Linked DNA regions of Homo sapiens. The protein of the gene in region 1 purifies or fractionates together with the protein of each later gene. This does not show direct contact. Each region holds a gene or a part of one and is shown on either strand. Other genes may lie near its edges.

Region 1 (3,500 bases):
TGGGACCTGCCAGCCTCCGGCATGGGAGAGCGATGCTTCAGAGAAGGGACCTCAGCCAGTGCCCTCGGACCCTTGATGAGATACACTCAAACCACACACCCCTTCACTGAAACTCCAGACCAGTGTGTGCCCTCTGAAGGCCCACTGGGTTCCCCCAGGTAAGAGAATGGCAAAGAACGTGGGTTTCCAGAGCAGTCTCTTTCCAATTAATAATTAATACATCAGCTTTTTCATTTACAAATCGGTCACTTATGAAATTGGTATCCAGGACAGGAGGCTGTGGTCGTGTCTGGGCGCATGTGACTACACGTCTGTGTTAAGTGTGAGGAAGGGGTGTGGGAGGACCCCAGACTGGTGCCAGAGTCTCGGCCTGGACTCAGCCTGGATCCATCTCTGGTTCTGTGACCCTAGACAGGTCACTGCCTCTGAGCCCTAGCCAGAGGGACACTTTACAAATACACGTAATAATGACCACATTCTAGGCCGGGCGTGGTGGCTCACACCTATAATCCCAGCACTTTGGGAGGCCGAGGTGGGTGGATCACCTGAGGTCAGGAGTTTGAAACCAGCCTGGCCAACGTGGTGAAACCCTGTCTCTAGTAAAAATACAAAAATTAGCCAGGTATGGTGGTGGGTGCCTGTAATCCCAGCTACTCGGGAGGCTGAGGCATGAGAATCGCTTGAACCCAGGAGGCGGAGGTTGCAGTGAGCCGAGATTGCAGTGAGCCGAGATTGTGTGTCACTGCACTCCAGCCTGGGGGATAGAGCAAGACTCTGTCTCAAAAAAAAAAAAAAAAAAAAGACCATATTCTTTCTCCGCTTAAACTGTTCTAGGACTCTGAGGATGGTGACCATAGCGTTCCCACAGCCCTCGCGTTCCTGGCTGCCCCTGCCCACCTCATACCACCCGCTCTTCCAAACACAGAGAACTCCAGCAGTACAGGCCCCCTCTCACTTCCACAAAAGCATCAAGTTTCTTCCTGGCTCAGGGTCTTTGCAAATGCTGTTCTTTCTAGCATGTTCTTCCTCCAGTCAATGCAACTCATATGTTCAGTCCTCAGGTTATCTGTCACATCCTCAAAGAAGCTCTCTCTTTCCCCCAGCATCTAAATTAGACCTCTTTTTTATACTGACCAAGTCCCGCACTTTCCCTTCCTAACACATACCCAGATCTGCAGTTACCTACCTCGGCCATTGTTTAGTGTCCACACCCACAAGCAGATCCCTGAAGGCAGGGCCCCTGCCTGACTTGTTCACACTGAACCTCAGTACCTAGCCCAGTGCCTGGCACATAAAGAATGTTCAATTTGTTGAACGCATGAGGGAATGAGCTCTGAATGCTATGAGTGTGCATCTCATCTCCAGAAGATTCACTCTGAGCCCATAAAGCAAGCAGAAAGCCAGCCCCAGAAGGTAGCAGCCCTGTTGTGGGCAGCTGTCCCCAGGGCTGCAGAGGACCCACGTTCCCGGCCATGTGCAGTTCCCGGCACTGTGGGAGCTCCTGTAACATTATTACCCCCACCAGTGTTGTTGCTAATGTGGAAACCGCCGGCCGGCAGGCAGGACTGTCCTTTCAGCTGAGGGGAAAGAGCCACTGTGGAGCCAGGATACCACCAGGGGGCCAGGGTGGAAGAGAGGGTCTGAGTGAGAGCGCCGCCCCGAGTGTTTCCCATGGGGCTGGGAGGCTTTGAGCCATGCTGACCCTGGGAGCTGGAGCACTTTCAATCACATGCCCACAGGCCGCAGCCCTGCCAGCATTCAGCTCCTGCCAACGCCCCTCCCCGTGAGGGGGACCCACTCCCACTGCAGGGGCTGGAGAGTGGGGAGGCCCAGAGCTGGGAGAGAGAGGCCCGCTGTTGCCAAGAGCAGGCTGACACAAAGGTCCCACAAGCCGAGCCTGGGAGAAGGAGCAGGAACTCGATTTCATAGAAGGGTGGGGGAAAAGCCTTCAGCATGGCATACAGCCACCCCCATGTAGTTAAGCAAAACTCACAGAAGAATGGCCCCCAAAGGAGGCTCCTCAGTGACAGAGCACCAGAGTGGGAGCCAGGATCAGCATTGAGCCCTAATCGTGCCCTCATGTAGTTACAGAACTCAAGTATGATGCCACTGCCGCCTCAAATTTACAAATAGTGACCCTAGCACGCCTACCTCCCGGAGAGGGTCCTTGGAGGGTCAGAGGAGAGCGGGAGTGGGTGCAAATGGGATGCTGGCAAACTATGCTAAGATGCACCCCTCACTGCTCAGGCAGACAGGGAGGCCTGCATGGCCCCTTCCAGAGCACCTGGCAGGATCCACATCATCCTCCAACAGGACAGAAAAAGGACCTGCAGTGTGGTAAGGTCAAGGATGATTTTTTCTTTCTTTAGGCTTCCTCTGTATTTTTTAACATAATGAGCAAGTGCTATTTTTAGAAAGAGAAACAAGTAAAATCAAGTTTTAAAAGCAGACCAATCCAAAGAGGTGTGAGAATTTGGAGGCAATGCCCTGGTTTGCTCCAGTGTGAGGGTGAGGCCTCTCGCCCAGTCTTGCCCACTTGCCCACCCCCAAAGCCACCTTCTGCTCACCTTGGCCCGGCGCAGGTCTTTCTCGCCCCCAACCTGGGCTTCAATCAGATGGTCACAGTGGATGGTGGATGGCACAGCCACCTTGGACAGCCCGCTGCTGATGAACTGGAGCATGGCCATCTGGGCCGTCGCATCCTGCATGGCCACACGGTCCGGCCGCAGCCGCAGGTACGACTTGCCTCGCTCAATTTCCTGGCTGGCGGGGTCATCCAGGTGTCCATACACAATCTTCTCCGAGAGTGTCAGCGGCCGGTTCAGTCTGTGGGGAGAAGAGCAGAAGGGTGGCCTGGTGCTAGCTGCACGGCCTCCTCCCGCCCTGCCTCTCCCTCTCAGTCCATGTGGCAACCTCAACAGTGGCCAGGGACAGGGAGTCTGAACTCAGGACCTCAACGTTCCACTTGGGTGGGGACTGCTGGGTCCTGTTCACTGCACCACCTCCTCACCTCCTGCAGCACCTGGCACTTGTTAGGTGCTCCACAATTACTTGATGAGTAAGTGAATGACAACATCACAAGAGGGCAGCGCTGGTTCTTTTCAAAGGATCCTGGCTTTCCCAGCATCGTAATTCCTACTAAGTCCCCGCAACATGCATATCTCATCATTCCTGCCATTTAACAACAACAACAACCAAGAAAGCCATTTAACAACAACCAAGAAACAGGCTCAGGAGAGTGACCAAGTTCACAGCTAGATTTCGCTACTTCCCTCTGTGCCCTCAGCCCCACTAAGGCACAGGGAATCAGGACCAGCATCCCCTTCACCTGTCCACCCTGTCCGCCATCTACAACCCTCCACACCTCAGGCCTGGGATGCCTGGCTACCCAACTATGACACTAAGACTTTGCCCATTAGCTCCAGACATAGACAGGAGTATCTGTCAGTTTTCAAGAACAGAGACCGGGTCACTGCCACTGGCCTCTCACAGCTCCTCCT
Region 2 (3,500 bases), on another chromosome or scaffold:
GAAGACTTTTACAAATGAAATTGGATTTCACTTTCTTCTCTGTGCTCAAAGAAACAAATGTATTTAACCAACTGTCCTTTAAAAAGGTCAAACTAGTTTGTACTTCTACTAACAGCATCATTCACTTCCTTTGAAATAAAATACATTTCCTTATCCTCTCCTAAATTCTTGAGATTTCCTGCTTGCCTCACGGTCTTTATTCAGTGCCTCACAGGTAACACTCACAGACCTGGGTTCAAATTCTATGACTGAGTAACCTTAATGGCTTTAATCAGTTTCCTTGCCTGTAAAATGGGAATAATAATAATAGTTCTTGCTTCATAGGATGGTTGTAAGATTAAATGAGATATTGAATGTAAATCTAGCAGGGTGCCTAGCATGTAGGAAGCACTCGAAAGAATGATGAACATACTAGCTTTTAAAAATATTGAAGTATATATATATATATAATACTTACCATTTTAACCATTTTTAAGTATACAGCTCAGTAGTTTAAGTGTATTCATAGTGTGATGCAACCATTACCATCACCCATCTCCAGAACGCTTTTCATCTTGCAAAACTGAAACTCCATATCCATTAAACACTAACTTTCCCTCACCAGTCCCTGGGAACACCATTCTACTTTCTGTCTCTATGAATTTGACTACGCTAGGTATCTCAAAGAAGTAGAAACATACAGTATTTGTCCTTTTATGACAGGCTTATTCCACTTTCAGGTTCATTATTAGCTTTTTTTTTTTTTTCTTTTTTTTGGAGCCAAGGTCTCACTCTGTTGCCCATGGCTGGAGTGCAGTGGTATGATCATGGTTTACTTGACCTCCAGGGCTCAAGCAATCCTCCCTAAAGCTAAAGTGTTATATTGCAGTGGGACATTTCTTCTAGTAACTATTAACATATTTTCAGAGAATTTAAAAAAATGTTGTCCATACCTGACATCCATTCACAATGGACTGAAAACCAGAACCACAGAGCCTATTAATCGTGAGAGCTGGGGTCTCCTTTGGGATTCCCACACGCAAACCAACATGCCTTGCCAAATATATAGCATCTGAAGAACTCTAGAAGAGAGAAGGAAAAGAAAAATAATTTTCTCTATAAATCTACTAATTAAGAACAAGCACGAAATACATGGAAATGTTGGCAATCTATCAAAAATGATAAACTATATGGCTCTAAGGTAGGACAAAATGCATCTAAGTACAGCATATTATATCTAATATGTGTTTACAATTTGAATAAAAACTACAGTCAATTGGGTTTTTTTCTATTTTTTTATTGGGGCAAAATACACATAACAAAATGTATCATTGTAACCATTTTTAAGTGTATAGTTCAATGGTATTATTTAAATACATTCATAATGTTGTGTAACCACAGTCAATTGGTTTTCAAATATATTAAAGATAATTGCTACTTAGAGAAATCCCATTAAGTCCTTAATATAAGACAGAAATTTATAACAATTAGAGTTATTTAAAAATGGAATACGCTATCCTAAAGTAGTATGCTCCTTAACAGAGGAAGTATCGGAGGCTGTGGTTCTCAACCTTGGTTGCAGGCTGGAATAACCTAGGAAGCTTTATTAACATACTCATGCTTAAGTTCCTAAGCAAATCAATTAAACCAGAAAGGCTGGAGGTGGGGCCTGGGCATCAGTAGTCACTTTTAAAAAGCATCCCAAGTAATTCTAATGTAAAACAGGCTGAGGACTGCATACTTAGGGAGAAGACAGATGAATGATTGGTCAGGAGAGTAAGAGGTAGGAGTAGACCACCACTCCCAAAACTTTAAAATGCATATGGGGGCGTCTTGTTATAATAAAATGTAAGTTCTGAATCAACAGGTCTAGGTCTGCCGGAGATTCTGCATTTCTAACCATTTCCCTGGTGAAGCTGATGTTGCTAGTCCAAGAACCACACTTTGAATAAAAAGAATGACTTAAAAAAAAAAAACCAACAACAACCAAAAACATTAACAGCCTGTTTTGGAGGCTGTTAGCAAGAGCAAAAGCAAGTTTGACAAAATGTAAAACATTGGTCTATCAAGGTACGGGGTTTTAGGATGTTCATTGTACTATTCTTTTAACTTTTGTGTAGGTTTCAAGTTTTTCAAAACTTGACAAATTCGGCACATTTATAAGTTAAGGGTTTTGAATGCAGATGGAACTGGGAGGAACTCAGTATAACATCAATTAATCTACTAACTAAATGTTTCATCTGTTGACTGAGATGAAATTATCTTATTTTACAAATTAATGTCATTAAAAAAATTCTTGGCCAATGGATATTCTTTTGCCAAGGTTTGTCAAATATCACATATCAACAGAATAAAAAAAATTTACACGATCATCTCGTGTAAATTATTAACAGATAAATATTTGGGGTTAGGCCTTTATGGTTAAGAGAGAACAGAATATGCTTCGAATAACATTTGACAAATACCACAAAGCTGCTTTTCTAATTGAGTTTAATATTATTAAATATCACTTGGAATAAATGAGTTTTACTTATTTCTTAGGAAACAATGAAATCCAATGTGGATTTCAACACAAAAAGTCAACAGAAAAAGTATTTGACAAAATACAACACCCTTTCATGACAAAAACACTGAACAAACTAGGAACAGATGGCAACTTTCTCAATCTGACAAAGGGAATCTATAAAAAATCCACAGCTCTCCCTCTCCCCCTCCTCCTCCCCCTCTCCCCACGGTCTCCCTCTGATGCCTAGCTGAAGCTGGACTGTACTGCTGCCATCTCGGCTCACTGCAACCTCCCTGCCTGATTCTCCTGCCTCAGCCTGCTGAGTGCCTGCGATTGCAGGCACGCGCCGCCACGCCTGACTGGTTTTCGTATTTTTTTGGTGGAGACGGGGTTTCGCTGTGTTGGCCTGGCTGGTCTCCAGCTCCTAACCGCGAGTGATCCGCCAGCCTCGGCCTCCCGGGGTGCTGGGATTGCGGACGGAGTCTTGTTCACTCAGTGCTCAATAGTGCCCAGGCTGGAGTGCAGTGGCGTGATCTCTGCTCGCTACAACCTCCACCTCCCAGCCGCCTGCCTTGGCCTCCCAAAGTGCCGAGATTGCAGCCTCTGCCCGGCTGCCACCCCGTCTGGGAAGTGAGGAGCGTCTCTGCCTGGCCACCCATCGTCTGGGATGTGGGGAGCCCCTCTGCCTGGCTGCCCAGTCTGGAAAGTGAGGAGCGTCTCTGCCTGGCCGCCATCCCATCTAGGAAGTGAGGGGCGCCTCTTCCCAGCCGCCATCCCGTCTAGGAGGTGAGGAGCGTCTCTGCCCGGCCGCCCATCATCTGGGATGTGGGGAGCGCCTCTGCCCGGCCGCGACCCCATCTGGGAGGTGAGGAGCGTCTCTGCCCGGCTGCCCCATCTGAGAAGTGAGGAGACCCTCTGCCCGGCAACCGCCCCGTCTAAGTGAGGAGCCCCTCCGCCCGGCAGCCACCCCATCTGAGAAGTGAGGAGCCCCTCCGCCTGGCAGCCACCCTGTCTG

What was found.
Region 2: the proteins of ACO2 (region 1) and ACAA2 fractionate together in Homo sapiens (co-fractionation; one large-scale study listed by BioGRID). This does not show direct contact.

Annotation. Positions count from the first base shown.
Region 1 is NC_000022.11:41,507,117-41,510,616, reverse strand, and holds part of ACO2 (aconitate hydratase, mitochondrial precursor), read right to left. Parts: intron 2,827-3,500; coding exon 2,568-2,826; intron 1-2,567. UniProt on the Homo sapiens protein: Catalyzes the isomerization of citrate to isocitrate via cis-aconitate.
Region 2 is NC_000018.10:49,796,534-49,800,033, forward strand, and holds part of ACAA2 (3-ketoacyl-CoA thiolase, mitochondrial), read right to left. Parts: intron 1,062-3,500; coding exon 933-1,061; intron 1-932. UniProt on the Homo sapiens protein: In the production of energy from fats, this is one of the enzymes that catalyzes the last step of the mitochondrial beta-oxidation pathway, an aerobic process breaking down fatty acids into acetyl-CoA.